Regions from separate parts of the Homo sapiens genome. Here region 2 is linked to region 1. Evidence: fine-mapped expression QTL. Tissue or cell type: T cells. Region 1 holds a variant in brackets; the other region holds the start of a gene. All regions are shown on one strand. Distances are from middle to middle.

What was found. PIP is the estimated chance that this variant, and not a neighbour inherited with it, causes the effect.
Region 2: it holds the start of MAPK13, and the variant in region 1 is fine-mapped to the expression of MAPK13 in T cells (TOPMed, PIP above 0.99).

The regions. Positions count from the first base shown.
Region 1 is chr6:36,173,133-36,181,501 of GRCh38, reverse strand. It overlaps BRPF3-AS1 (BRPF3 antisense RNA 1), which reads left to right. Exons shown (of 3, transcript NR_187147.1): 2 at 1,795-1,885. Among named protein-coding and RNA genes, the nearest start is that of BRPF3, 19 kb to the left of the region's middle. The variant A/G (reference allele first, on the strand shown) is at 4,321.
Region 2 is chr6:36,126,796-36,132,752 of GRCh38, reverse strand. It overlaps MAPK13 (mitogen-activated protein kinase 13), which reads right to left and starts at 2,240. Exons shown (of 12, transcript NM_002754.5): 1 at 2,052-2,240; 2 at 1,353-1,482; 3 at 74-132. The coding sequence starts at 2,170. RefSeq lists enhancers at 515-764, 1,475-1,594, 1,486-2,089 and silencers at 1,235-1,344, 1,985-2,054, 2,095-2,344.

The DNA of each region.
Region 1 (8,369 bases):
GAGAGAAGCTGAAACTCAAGTTGATCACCAATGGCTAATGATTTAATCAGTCATGCATATGTAATGAAGCTTCCATAAAAACCCAAAAGGACTGGGTTTAGAGAACTTCCAGATAGCTGAACATGTAGAGATTCCTGGAAAGTGGCAGGCCTGGAGAGAGCATGGAAGCTTCATGCCCCTTCTCTCATACCTCACCCTATGCATCTCTTCCATTTGGCTGTTATCTATATCCTTTGTAATATCTTTTATAATAAATGGATGAATGTAAGTAAAGTGTTTCCCTGAGCTGAGTGAGCTGTTCTAGCAAATTAATCAAACCCAAGGAGGGAGTCATGGGAATCCTCAATTTATAGCCAATTGGTCAGAAACTCAGGTTGCACAATGTAAGCACAATCTATGCTTGCAACTTGCATCCAAAGTGGAGAGGAGTCTTGTGGGACTGATCTCTCAACCTATGGGTAGAGAACTCCGGGTGGATAGTGTCAGAATCAAATAGAACTAAAAGACACTCAGATGTTATCTGCTGCAGAACTGATTGCTTGCTTGATGTGTGGGTATAAACCCCCACACATCTGGAGTCACGGAAGTGTTCTGTGTTGTGAGGGTATAGTAGGAGAAACTGAGTTTGTTTTTTTCCATACCAAGTACCCCTTTAATCTTTAATGTGAATAATTGTTTCCCTAATATTAAACCATTCTCTTAGCAATGGAAAATTCTGCTTACAAAAAATATATGTATTAAACCATTCTTGCATCCCTGGATTAGCCTGACTTTCTCATTATTTATTACCTTTTTAAAATATCTCACTGATTTGGTTTGCTAATACTTTAATATTTTTACATATAGGCTCCAAAGTGAGATTGTCTATAATTAGATTGTTTAGGGAATCAAGTTTTATTTACCTCATAAATGAGTCGAGAATATTTTCTCTTTTTCTATTTTCTATAAGAGTTTGTATAACATTGGAATAAGCTGTTTATTGAAAAGTTGGTAGAACTCACTATCTTACTGTGTTTCTGCTGCTGTAACAAAATACCTGACACTGGGTAATTTATGAAGAAATGAAATTTATTTTCTCACAGTTCTGGGGGCTGGAAAGTCCAAGATCAAGGTGCCAGCAGGTTTGGTGCCTGGTGAGGACCTAGTTTCTGCTTTCAAGTTAGCGCCTTGTTGCTGCCTCTTTCAGGGGATGAACACTATGTCCTCACATGGCAGAAGAGATGAAAGGGCAAAAGGAACTGACTAGTTCTTTGGGCCCTTTTATAAAGTCACTAATCCCATTCATGAGGACTCCACTTCATGAATTAATCATTACCTAAAGGGGTTACCTCTTTGTTTTATTATCCCCCCTGTTTTGACACAGAAGAATTACCTACCTCTTAATACTATTATATTGGTGAGACTGCTTCAACTTGAAACAATATGAGTTTTAGGGGACATTCAGATCATATAAATTATTTAATCCTGATGGCTTCATTGTAAGAAGATTTTTATTAACTTCAATTTCTTTACTGGTCATAGGACTTATTTCTTCTTGAAGTATGTTTTCCTAGGATTTTGTTCATCTAAGTTTTAAAAAACTTTTTTTTTCATCTCTGATCCTTCTGTAGTTATGTCCCCCTTTGCATTACTAATATTTTTTCTCCCTCTCTCTTCTCCCCTCCCCCTGCCCCCTGTAGTTTGTCAATTTTATTAGTTTCTTCCCTATGTAACAAGCTTTGAATTTGTTGATCCCCTCTATTGTACTTTTTAAAATACTTTTTAAAAATATCTCATTTTATTTTGTTTTTATAGGTGGTATCTCACTGTGTTATCCAGACTGGACTCAAATTTCTGGGCTCCAATGGTCCTCTCACCTCAGCCTCCCAAGTAGTCAGGACTACAGGTACACACTACTGTGCGTGGCTATTGTATTTTCTTGATTGTTGCTTTAATAATTTTTATGTGCTTCCTTTTACTTTCTTTGAGTTCATTCTTTATTTTCTACTGTCATCGGTTGGGTGCTTAATTATGTCATTTTCAGGTTTTAATTTCTAATATAAGCATACAAGACTATATAAGTTTACCTTGAATTACCACTACTATTTTGTTTCCCAAGTCTTGATACACAGTATTTTTATTATTGTTCATTTCTAAATATTTTTTACACTTTTATTACAATTTCATCTTGGATTGAAGTATTGTTTCAGGAGTATGTTTAATTAAATTTTGAGATAATTATAGATTCACATGCAGCTGTAAGAAATAATAGAAAGAGATCCTGTGTACACTTTACCCAGTTTCCTCCCAATTTGTAAAATTTCTCCTATTTGTAAAACTATAGAAAATATCACAATCAAGATACTGACATTAATGAGAAATCAGCTGTTAGTTTTACCGAGGATCCCTTATATGTGATGAATTACTTCTCTCTCACTGCTTTCAAGATTCTGTTTGTCCTTCGCTTTCAACAATTTGATTATAATGTGTCTAGGTGCAAATCTTTTTGAGTTTCTCGTATTTTGAGTCTGCTGAGCTTCTAAAATGTGTAGATTAATGTTTTTCACAAATTTGGGGAGTTTTGGCCTTTTTTTCTTCCAGTATTCTTTTTAGGTCTCTCCCCTCTGCTTCTTTGATTTATTTTATATGTATGATAGTACACTTCATGGTGTTTCACAGATCTCTGAAACTCTTCATTTTCTTTATTCTTTTTCTCTCTGTTTTTCATATTGGGGCATCTCAATTGACCTTTCTTCCAGTTTGCTGATATTTCTTTCTGCTAGCTTGAATCTACTATTGAGCTCCTCTAGTGAATTTTTCATTTCAGTTATTGTACTTTTCAACTCTGGAATTTCTGTTTGGTCCTCATTTATAATTGTATCTTTGTATCAATATTTTCTAGTGAGACATTATTCTCATGCTCTTCTTTAGTTCTCTAGATATAGTTTTCTTTAATTGTTTGAACACATTTATACTATCCTATTTAAAGTCTTTGTCTAGTAAATCCAACATCAGGGCTTCCTGACAGTTTCTATTCATTGCTTCCCCCCACCCAGCCCCCACGGTGTATAGGTTATTTTTCCTGTTTCTCTGCATATCTTATACACTTTTATTGAAAACTAGATGTTTTAAATAATAAAATGTGGCAACTCTGGAAATCAGATTCCCCCTCTTCCCCAGAATTTATTCTTGCAATTGCTGTTGCTCCTGTTTGTCTAGTTACTTTCCTAAATTAATTCTGTAAAGTCTGTATTCTTTGTAACGTTTGGCCACTATAGCCTCTGCTTTCTTAGCTTAGTGATCAGGTAATAAATGGACAGATATTTTCTTAAATGCTTTGAATTGATAAGTCTCCCAGCCTTTGCCAAAGGTCTGTGTGTGTGTGTTGGGACATATCCATAAAGCTGTACCACACACTAGACAACTCTGCTTTAGTCTTTACTTTCTGCTTGTGCAGAACCTCAAGGTCTGCCAGTGGTTAGAGATTAAGGTCTTCTCAAACCTTTCCTGGGTACGCACATAGTTCTGGGCAGGGATACAGCCTGTACATGCATGTGGTCACCTGTACATGCATGTGGTCATCTACATTTCCGGGAAATCTGATTAAGCTTTCCAAACACACTTATAAACTTCTTAATCCAGCTGGGCAAGGTGGCTCATGCTTGTAATCTCAGCACTTTGGGAAGCCGAGGTGGGCGGATAATTTGAGGCCAGGAGTTCGAGACCAGCCTGGTCAACATGGTGAAACCCCATCTCTACTAAAAATACAGTAATTAGCCGGGCATGGTGCTACATGCCTGTAATCATAGCTACTCAGGAGGCTGAGGCAGGAGAATCACTTGAACCCAGGAGGCAGAGGTTTGCAGTGAGCCAGGGTCGTGCCACTGCACTCCAGCCTGGGCAACAGAGCAAGACTCCATGTCAAAAAAAAAATCTTATTCCTCAGTTTTTCCTTATAATCTTTTTTTCCCCCAAATGTTATCACCTCAGGCACCTGAGATGTTAAACAATTGCCACTAATTGTTTTCCATAAATACTCCAAAGAAAAGGCTGTTCACAGTAAATGAACCCTGAGTCAGTTCCAATAAAGACCAACCCTGAGAGCCCCTGTGGTTTCCAGGAAACTGCCAGACAAGTCAAAGAATAACTAATGGAAGATGAGCATTTAGGGGAACTCCAAGCCCATTCTGCCTGCTTCAGTGACTGCTAGGTTGCTGGTTTTCAGGGTTACCATGATTGAAGGTTGTTGGTTTCCAAGGCTACTATGGAACTACAGAAAGAGGGATGGCAATAGGACAAGTTAAAATGCCACCAGTCTTGCTCTTCTTATGAGATTTAGCC[A/G]TGTGTGTGTGTGTGTGTGTGTGTGTGTGTGTGTGAAAATGCTCCTCAGACTTTTGTGAGCCTTTGGTTAATTTTCAGAGTTCTAAAAATGTTGATTTTAACAATTTTTTGCCAGTGCTCTCATTGCTTTTCTGAAGAAATCAATTTTTGGCGATTTTTACTCCACCATTCTGAATGCAGTTCCAATCATATTGACATTAATACAGTCAAGATACAGAACAATTCCATCACCACAAGGATCTCTTGTGTTGTTCTTTTACAGCCACGTGCATTTCCTTCCTATTACTGTCTTAGGCCCTGGCAACCACTAATCTGTTCTCTATTTCTATAATTTTGTTATCTCAAGAATTGTATAAATGGAACCATGCAGTATATAGCCTTTTGGGATTTTTTTCACTCAGCATGATTCCCTGGGGGTTTATCCAGATCATTGCCTTTATCAATAATTTGTTATTATTGCTAAGGAATAATCCATAATATGGATGTACCACTCTTTATTCACCCACTGAAGAACATCTGAGTTGTTTCTAGTTTAAGGATTTATGGATAAAGCTGCTGTGAATATTCATATACAGGTTATTATATGAATATAAGTCTGTCTTTCTCTGAGATAGATGCCTAGAAGTGTAATTGTTGAGTCATACTTCATTTAGTTTGTTTTTTTTTAAGAAACTGCCAATCTGTTTTTCAATTCAGCTCTACTATTTTACATTCCCACCAGCAATATATGAATGATTTGGTTTCTCTGCATACTTGCCAGCATTTGATGTTGTCAAAATTTTTTATTTTAACTAGAGAGAGTATATGCTAATATTTTATTGTGGCTTTAATTTGCATTTCCCTAATGGCTAATGATATTAAACATCTTTATATGTGCTCATTTGGCATCTAATTGGATTATTTTTTACTGTTGAGTTTTGAGGGTTCTTTTGAGAGTATATTCTGGATACTAATCCTTTGTTGGATATGTGGTTTTCTTCAGTTTTTAGCCTTTCTTTTTATCTTGTCAACAGGGTTTCTGAGAAAGCAACAGTTTTTTAATTTTTTATAGAGTCCAATTTATCAATCTCTCCTTTTATGAATTATGTTTTGGTGTCAAGTCTAAGAAATTGTTGCTAGTGCTAGGTCTCAAATATTTTCTCCTATTTTTTTTCCTAAAAGTTTTATAGTCTTGTTCTTTACACTTAAGTCTGTGATCTATTTTGAGTTAATATTTGTAGAAAGTATGAGACTTACTTCAAAGTTCATGTGTTTTTGTTTGTTTGTTTTGCATATGGATCTTCAATTACTCCAGTGCCGTATGTTGAAAAGGCTATCTTTTCGTCATTGAATTGCTTTTGCACCTTTGTCAAAAATCAGTTAGACATTTTTGTGTAGGTCTATTTCTGAGTTCTCTATCCTGTTATATTGATCTGTATCTCTCCCTCTGCCAATACCACACAGTCATGATTAGTGTAGCTCTATAAAAATCTTGAAATTGGGAAGACTGGTTCCCCCACTTTATTCTTTTTTCCAAATTATTTTGGCTATTCTATTTGTCTTTTCACATAAATTTGGGGACTAATTTTGTGTATTCTACATAAAACCTTGCTGAGATTTTAGTAGAAATTTTATTTAACTTATATATCAATCTGGGGAGTATTGACATTTTTAGAAGTGTGTTTTTAAATTTATAAATACATGGAGAGTTCCTTTCTTTTCTTTCCTTCCTTCCTTTCTTTCTTTCTTTCTTCTTTCCCTTCCTCCCTTCCTTCCTTCCTTCTTTCTTTCCTTCTTTCTTTCTTTCTTTTCTTTCTTTTCTTTCTTTCCTATGGAGTCTCGCTGTGTTGCCCAGGCTGGAGTGCAGTGGCACGATCTCGGCTCACTGCAACCTCCGCCTCCCAGGTTCAAGTAATTCTCATGTCTCAGCCTCCCACGTAGCTGGGATTACAGGCACTTGCCACCACGCCTGGCTAATTTTTGTATTTTTAGTAGAGACAGGGTTTCACCATGTTGGCAAGGCTGGTCTTGAACTCCTGACCTCAGGTGATTCGCCCACCTCAGCCTCCCAAAGTGCTGGGATTACAGGTGTGAGCCAGCACAGACAGCCTTTTTCTTGATTATTAACATCTCATTTAATTCTAGTGTAGTCAGAGAATGCTATTATTATAGCAGTTATTTGAAATTTGCTGACACTTTATGGACTAGTATTTAATTTTTATAAATGTTCCACATGTGCTTGAAAAGAATGAATATTCCCTAATTTTTAGATGTTCTATTGTGTTCTATTGTGTGATCAAAAACTAATCCTGCCAGCCTGGCCAACATAGTGAAACCCTGTCTCTACCAAAAAATATAAAAATTAGCTAAGCATGGTGGCACATGCCTGTAGTCCAGCTACTGGGGAGGCTGAGGTGGAAGAATCACTGGAACCCAGGAGGTAGAGATTGCAGTGAGCCGAGATCGCACCATGGCACTCCAGCCTAGGCGACAGAGTGAGACCCTACCTCCAAAAATAAAACAAAACAAATTAATTGTGTTATTCAAATCTTTTTTATTTTTTTAACCAATTTTTTTGTGTACTTATAACCCCCTATTTTTAAAATTATATAACAAACTTCTTCCTTCCTAATAATGTTTTTGTCTTAAAATCCATTTTCTCTAATATTAATATAACTACCTCAGCTTTCTTTTGTTAGTATTTGTCTGGATTAGTCTTTTTCATCTTTTTGCTTTCAACCTGTTGACTTATGTTTTAAGTGAGCCTATTGTACAGTATATTAATGGACTTTGTTTTTATTTCAAATTTAAGTATCTCTGTCCTAAATGGCACTTTTAGGTCATTAACTTTATTGTAATTATGATATATTTGGCCTTATTTCCATCACCTTGCTTTGTGCTTTGTCCCCTTTTCATTATATTCCCCCCACCACACGCATATACACATTTCTTGTCTCATTTTAGATTTTTGCCAATCTTTCTTTCCTTCCTTCCTTCCCTCTCTCCCTCCCTCCCTCCCTCCCTCCCTCCCTCCTTCCCCCCCATTCTTCCTTTCTTTTCTTTCTTTTGCATATATCTTCTCTCTATTGGTTTGGAAATTATACATTCTAATTTTATTATTTCGTGGTTACCATTAAAATTTCACCATGCATACTTTAAAATGTCTTGAGCTAATCAAATCTGTAAGTCTTCTGAACAACATAGTTTCCCTCTGAGGTTCTGAATCTTCAGATTCAATCAATTGCTGATTTAAAATATTTGAAAAAAATTTGGCCAGGTGCGGTGGCTCATGCCTGTAATCCCAGCACTTTGTGAGGCTGATCACCTGAGGTCAGTTCAAGACCAGCCTGGCCAACATGGTGAAACTCCGTTTCTACTAAAAATACAAAAATAGCCAGGCGTGGTGGCAGGCACTGGTAATCCGAGCTACTTGGGAGACTGAGGCACAAGAATCGCTTGAACCCAGGAGGCAGATGTTGCAGTGAGCCAAGATTGCACCACTGCACTCCAGCCTGGGCAACAGAGTGAGACCCTGTTAAAAAAGAAAATTAGGCCTCAGTAAACCTGATATTTTTAAAAAGAAAAAAAGAAATTGTATAATTAACCACTTTTGCACACCAAATATAAATGGTACAAGTGGGGATGAGGAATTTTAAAATTCATTAAAATGTATAAATATATACCCAACGAGGAAAGAAATATGGGTAGAGGTGACAGTCCCTATTCTGTAATTGCTTATGGGGCTGTGGTTGACATGTATAAATTTTCCTCTCTGTAATTTGTGTCATGTTCCCTTTGCCTTCACAAAAGAACTCAGTAAGTTGGAGTTTCTTACCAAACTCACCTCATAAGAATTACTTCCTTGGTAAATCTGTCTTCAGGGATATAGCAGTCTTCCATTAACTTTTTCCGTTGGATATGGTTGTTTAAGACCTGCTCCAGAATAGCAGACCTGAGTTCTATTAAGATTTTCCTATCCCGAGGTCAAGGCTATAGTGAGCCATGATAGTGCCACTGCACTCCAGCCTGGGTGAGAGAGTGAGACTCTATATCAAAATTTTTAAGATTTC
Region 2 (5,957 bases), 48 kb after region 1:
CCCTCCCCCACCTTGCTCCCCAGCGGCATGTAAGGCCTGCAAATGCCCCAGAACCCAGTGCAGCCCAACTCACAAGTCATAGAAGTTGCGCAGGGAGGAGGCTGGGGTGAAGACATCCAGGAGCCCAATGACCTGGGGAAGAAGTCACCTGTGAGGGCTAGACAGACGCTACCTTCTCCTCCCACCTCCTCCTGGGCCCTGGCCATGCACAGGGCCATCCACCCTTTCCTAATACACCACCTCCAGCAGGAGGCATGTCTCCAACCTTCTTGGAAGCAGTAAAAAGGGCAGAGGCCTAGAGGAATCCCCTGGATTTGGAGGGAGTTTGCAATAAATCATGACAGAGAGTCAGGCTGGGGAGAAGGGAAGGTGGGGAGAATGATGTGTGCTCATTGCTGTCAAGTCTGGTGTCAGGGCAAGCAACACAAACCCACTCTCAACTCACCTAGGCAGCAGGAAAGCATAAGGGGAGGGTGGAAGGGAAAAAGGAGGGAACAGAGAAGGAGCTTTTCAGCCAGCAAACTCCCTGCCCCTGACCTTGGGTCTCCAGCCACATCCATCCTTGCCTGCCACAGGGCTGGTTCAGAGCCAAGGGCAAGATCACCCTGGCTGGAGGCCATAGGGGAGGGGTTTGCTGGAGAAGGATGGGCTTAAAATGTACATAACATTTTGAAATCATTCTTTGAAATGTCTGCCCTCCAATCTAGGTATCCTGCAGCAAAGCCTGGCTGCCAGGCCCTGAGCTGGGCCCCTGGTTTTCCCAGCTGCTTCTATCAGACAAGACAATCTGATGGTCATGTGCTCAGACCGGGAGCCTCGCTGCCGAGATTGAAACCCCAGCTCTGCTACTGACTAACCATCTAATCTGTGAGCCTTGCTGTGCTTTAGTTTCCTGTCTGTGACATGGGGGCAGTAGTACTCATATATCATGAGGACTAGACAAGTTAGTGTATGCAGAGCTCTTAGAACATAGGAAGTGCTCAATATGTGTATATTGCTATTGTTATCAGGGTCACGTGGACACAACGCTAACTAGGATTCTAGTCCCAGCTGGCCACAAGCTCTCAGACATGGAACCAATTACAAAGTTCCCCTGTGCCAATTTCCTCTGTAGGATAACACAGTCTGTACCTCACAAAGTGCATTCTGCCAAAAATACCCTTTGACCTCTTCCTGGAAAGTGGGCAGGGAAGGTCTCGGCACCCCCTCCTTTCAATAGTGAGGCGAGAGGCACCGTCAGGGGAGCAGGGAGGAGACTGTCCCGAGCTCTCCATACCGGGAGGCCCCGCCTGCGCCTGCCCCTGACTCCCCAGGGCAGCCCCCACCCCCTCCCCGGGGCAGCCACCACCTACGTTCTCATGCTGCATGTGCTTCAGCAGCAGCAGCTCCCGGTAGGCGCGCTTGGCGAAGATCTCGGACTGAAAGGGTCGGCTCAGCTTCTTGATGGCCACCTTCTCCCCTGACCGCTTGTCGATGGCCGAGCTGTCGGGCACAGGCCGGTCAGCAGGCGAGGCTCTCCTCCTGGGCCGTATCTCCCAGACCGCCCTGACCCCTCCCACTGGGCAGCTGGGCTGAGAGGGGACTAGGCCCACCACCTAGAATATGGGGGAGCCGCGGGACGCAGGGCAGGGAGTAGGAAGCCAGGCAGGAGCTGAGAGAGGGGCACAGCGCCAGGGGCAGCAACGTCTCATTGCGACGGGATCCACGGCAGGGCGGGAGTCTCACTCTGTCTGCAACTTGGCGAGCCACCTCCCCCTCTTGGGGCCTCGGTGTACTCGTCTGTAACAGTGAGGATCTGCCCGATGAACTCTGGGGTCTTGCAAGTGTACAGTCCTGGAGAACCAGGCCCAGTCCCAACTCAACCCCCAGAGACCTCACTCAGCCACTCGGTGAGAAAAGGGAGATGGCCGCTGGGTGGCCCCGGGGAGGGCGCTGGGCCTTGAGGTCCGCGGTCAAGGTGGCGCTGGCGAGGGGCCAGCCCAGGGCGGGCTGGGCGGAAAGGGGAGAGCCTGGCGCCCGCCCCCCGCCCCCCAGCGGCCCAGGGGTCTCACCACACGGAGCCATAGGCCCCGCTGCCGACGTGCGTCGGGGACACGTAGGTCTTGGGCAGCTCCCAGGCTGTCTTGTTGACGTCCTGCTTGTAGAAGCCCTTTTTCCGGATGAGGCTCATCCCGGGCACCCGATCTCGGCGGCCCCAGCGTGGCGGCTGCGTTCGCGGCCCAACGGGCTCCCAGCGCCCCGACCCCCGCTGCGCCCGCCCCGCGCCGCCCGCTCCTCCCCCGCGCGAGGGCGGGGGCCCCGGGCTGCTACGCTCCCACCTGCCGGCTCGCCCAGGTGCGCCGGGGCCGCCACGCCCGGGCCTGTCCAGCCCTGCGCTCCCGCGCTTCCGCCCGGCCCGACGGAGCCACTGCGGCAGGTGCGGCCCAGGCACGGGGTCGGGGCTGCCCAGCGGGACCCCGGTGCCTCCCAGCCGAGCGCGGGCCAGCGGCGGGGCTGGTGGGTCCAAGCAGGAGCGGGGAGGCAGTGCTTCCCAGTTCCCTCCAGCCCCGGTCTCCGTAGGAAGAGCTCCCTGTGACTGTGAACACACAGGAAAGCAGAACAAAACCCCACAACCTCTTCATTATGGAAAATGTCAAACATGCAGGAAAGAATTGAACAGAGTAAGCCAGCGCTTCTCACACTTCAGTGTGCTCAGGAATCCCCTGGGCATTTTATTTGATTAAAATACAGATCCTGACTCAGTAGGTTTGGGGTGGAGCCGAGATTCTGCATTTCTAGCCAGCTCCCAGGTCTGAGGCTTCTGAACCACATCTGATAGGAGGTTCTAATGAACCCCCGTGACCCCAATTCCCCAGCAACCACAACTCATAATCAATTTTATTTCATCCACATTCCTCTCCCACCATCGTTTTGAAGCAAAACCCAGGCGTCATATCATTTTATTCATAAATATTTTTGTATCTCTAAAACGTAAGGATTTTTAAAAGTACGTATCCACAATACTATATATATATATTTTTTGAGACTCTGTCGGAGTGCAGTTGCCATCTCGGCTCACTGCAACCTCCGCCTCCCGGGTTCAAGCAATTCTCTGCCTCCGCCTCCCGATTAGCTAGGATTGTAGGTGCCTGCCACCAAACCCGGCTAATTTTTGTATTTTTAATAGAGATGGGGTTTCACCATCTTGGCCAGGCTGGTCTTGAACTCCTGACCTCGTGAACCACCCGCCTCGGCCTCCGAAAGTGTTGGGATTACAGGCGTGAGCCACCGCGCCTGGCCCACAATACATTCTTAAACCTAAAATTAATAGCACTAATTCTATAATACCAAATATCCACGCAGGTTCAAATGTGCAGGATTTTTGTTTGTTTTTGACATGGAGTCTCACTCTATTGCCTAGGCTGGAGTGCAGTGGCGCCATCTCAGCTCACTGCAACCTCCGCCTCCCAGGTTCAAGCAATTCTCTTGCCTCAGCCTCCTGAGTAGCTGGGACTACAGGTGCACACCACCACTCCTAGCTAATTTTTGTATTTTTAGTAGAGACGGGGTTTCACCATGTTGGCCAGGCTGGTCTTCAACTCCTGACCTCAGGTGGTCCGCCCACCTCAGCCTCCCAAAGTGTTTGGATTACAGAAGTGAGCCACCGCACCTGGCCCAAATGTGCAGTTTTGAACACAGTTTCTGTGGACTTCCTAAGGCTCTATGAGGACAATGACTAATTGGGGCCCTTGCCACCTGTCTGGTGGCCTGTGCAGCCTGATGGAGATTCTTTGCTCAAACCACAAAGGCCTCTGAGGAGCAAGGTGGGCAGGTGGGGGGAGGAGATGGCTGCAAGGGCTCTGGATGCCCAGCCTGACTTGTCCAACCCCTCTCTTGCCCAGGCATGGGGCTGTGGAAGGGGCGGGGACCACCTGCTTCACTTTGTCAAAAAGAAGGTCTATTGAACAAGGAAAGAAATTTGCTAGGGGCTTACAGCAAGCCGGGGGCCCACACTAGGGAGTCTGCAGCCCCCAAACTCTGTGCCCCAAGCCCTCCCGGGCAGTCCTGCAGCCTCAGGCACAGCCTGGAAGATCATTCTGAGATGAGGGTGGGGTGCCATCATCACACAACAACACCTGCCATTATTTCAGTCAGGCAATCTGTCTTTTTCATTTCTGGCACATGGCAATATAACAGCAAATGTGTGGAGAATGAATGGAGGAGTCAGCCCATTAGATGTAAAAGAGTCATTTAATACACACTTGTGTTTGCCATGTGCCCGTCATTAAGTGTTTTATATAACTCACTTAATCCTGGTAAGAGGCCTGTGAGTCAGTAATATGATTATCCTCATTTTAGAGATGAGGAACCCGAGGTACAGAGAGGCTAAGTAATTTGCCCAAGGTAACACAGCTGGTAAGGGCAGAGCTGGGTGAAAGCAAGTACAGCCTGATTCTAGAGTCCCTGCTCTTGGCTGCGAGGCTATGCGGTGGCCTAGAGTTGACAGAATTGCTCCTCAAAGGAAATGGCCTTGCCCACATCATAAGGACATGTCTACTGATCCAACCATGTCTCCCTCAGTCCATCCTGCCCTGGGGTATCTGATATTTTCCCCAGCCTTTTCCCTCCCCCACCCCCTACTCTGGCCCTGAGACCCCATGAGAGCCTAAGGAACGGGGTCGCTTGCCTGTGAGTGCTGCAGGAGTTTTGGACCTTTGGGATCAGTGGCACCAGTGCAAGGTACCTTGATTCTGAAGTTGGGGTGGGGTCCTGGAAGCCAGATTTTAGGCTAGACGCAGGCAAAAGAGAGTAACTGACCTCAGAGATTCAGGTTTTCTTCTGGTTTGAGGATCCAGTAAGGAAAGGGGCTAGGATGTGGCACCAGGTCAGGATGGCGCCTCTCTGCTGCACGTCTTAAACACCTGAGTGGGGCAGAGGTGAGCCCAGGAAGGTGGGGATACCAAGGACATGCTCATCGCCCAAGTGGGTGCGATCTTCTGAGAGCACGAGTGGCCACTCTGGCTGTAGCTCCGGATGCTCTTGAGCAAGGGTCAGGAAGTGACTCAGGCCTCCGACTCTGCTGACACTGACCCCTACTCTGGGCCTGACTGGCTCTGCATTACTCAGCAGCCAGGCAGTCTGGGAGGGAGCCCTTGGAGGATCCAGTTGGGGAGTCATGAAAGGGAGGGGAGGAGGAGAGGGTCACTCAGGTCATCCTGGATACCCTGCTTCTCCAGCCTGAGGCTCTCTTTTGAGTTCCAAGGGCCCTTTGCTCTTCTCCTCTCCAAACACCAACCCAAGTTGTCTTGTTGGTTTCTGCCCTATGAGCATGGAGCATGGAGGCAGGGATTCAGGAAACTAGCTTTGGAATGAGGCCTGAATTTACATCCTTTCTCTGTCATTACCAGCTGTGTGACCTTGGGCAAAGTCTGGCCCTCTCTCTGAGCTTCAGTGTCCTCCTTGTGAAATGGGGATAATAATAAAGTATGACAAGCATATTGAAAGAGCCTTAGGATTGTATCATTTCAAGTACATATTCCTCACGACAACCCAATGAGGTAGGAACTTTCAATGCCTCCAACCAGAGATCACCAGAAACACACGTGTGGGTGAACAAGCTGAGCTGATGACTCGTTGCAACAAGGGAGAGCATGCACCATGGGGATCATGGGGCGTCCCAGGAAGGGGGCGTTAGAAAGGACTTAGTCTAATGTTTGGAGTTGTGTTAGGTGATTGGGGAGAGGTTAAGGAAGTGAGGCTTTGTTCTGGGTTGATGCTGTCAGGAAGTGGAGCTAACACTATGATTGGGAGTCTTAATACATCTTGCCTAGAAGGAAAGCAGACTAGAGCAAGGCTGAAGCTACAGCTGGTAAACCAGCAGCCTCCACTCAGCTTAGCTCTACAGGGGGATTTGGGTCATTTCTGTGATTTGACAATATTCATGTTTTGTCTGTGTTCAGATATGATTAAGGAGTAGT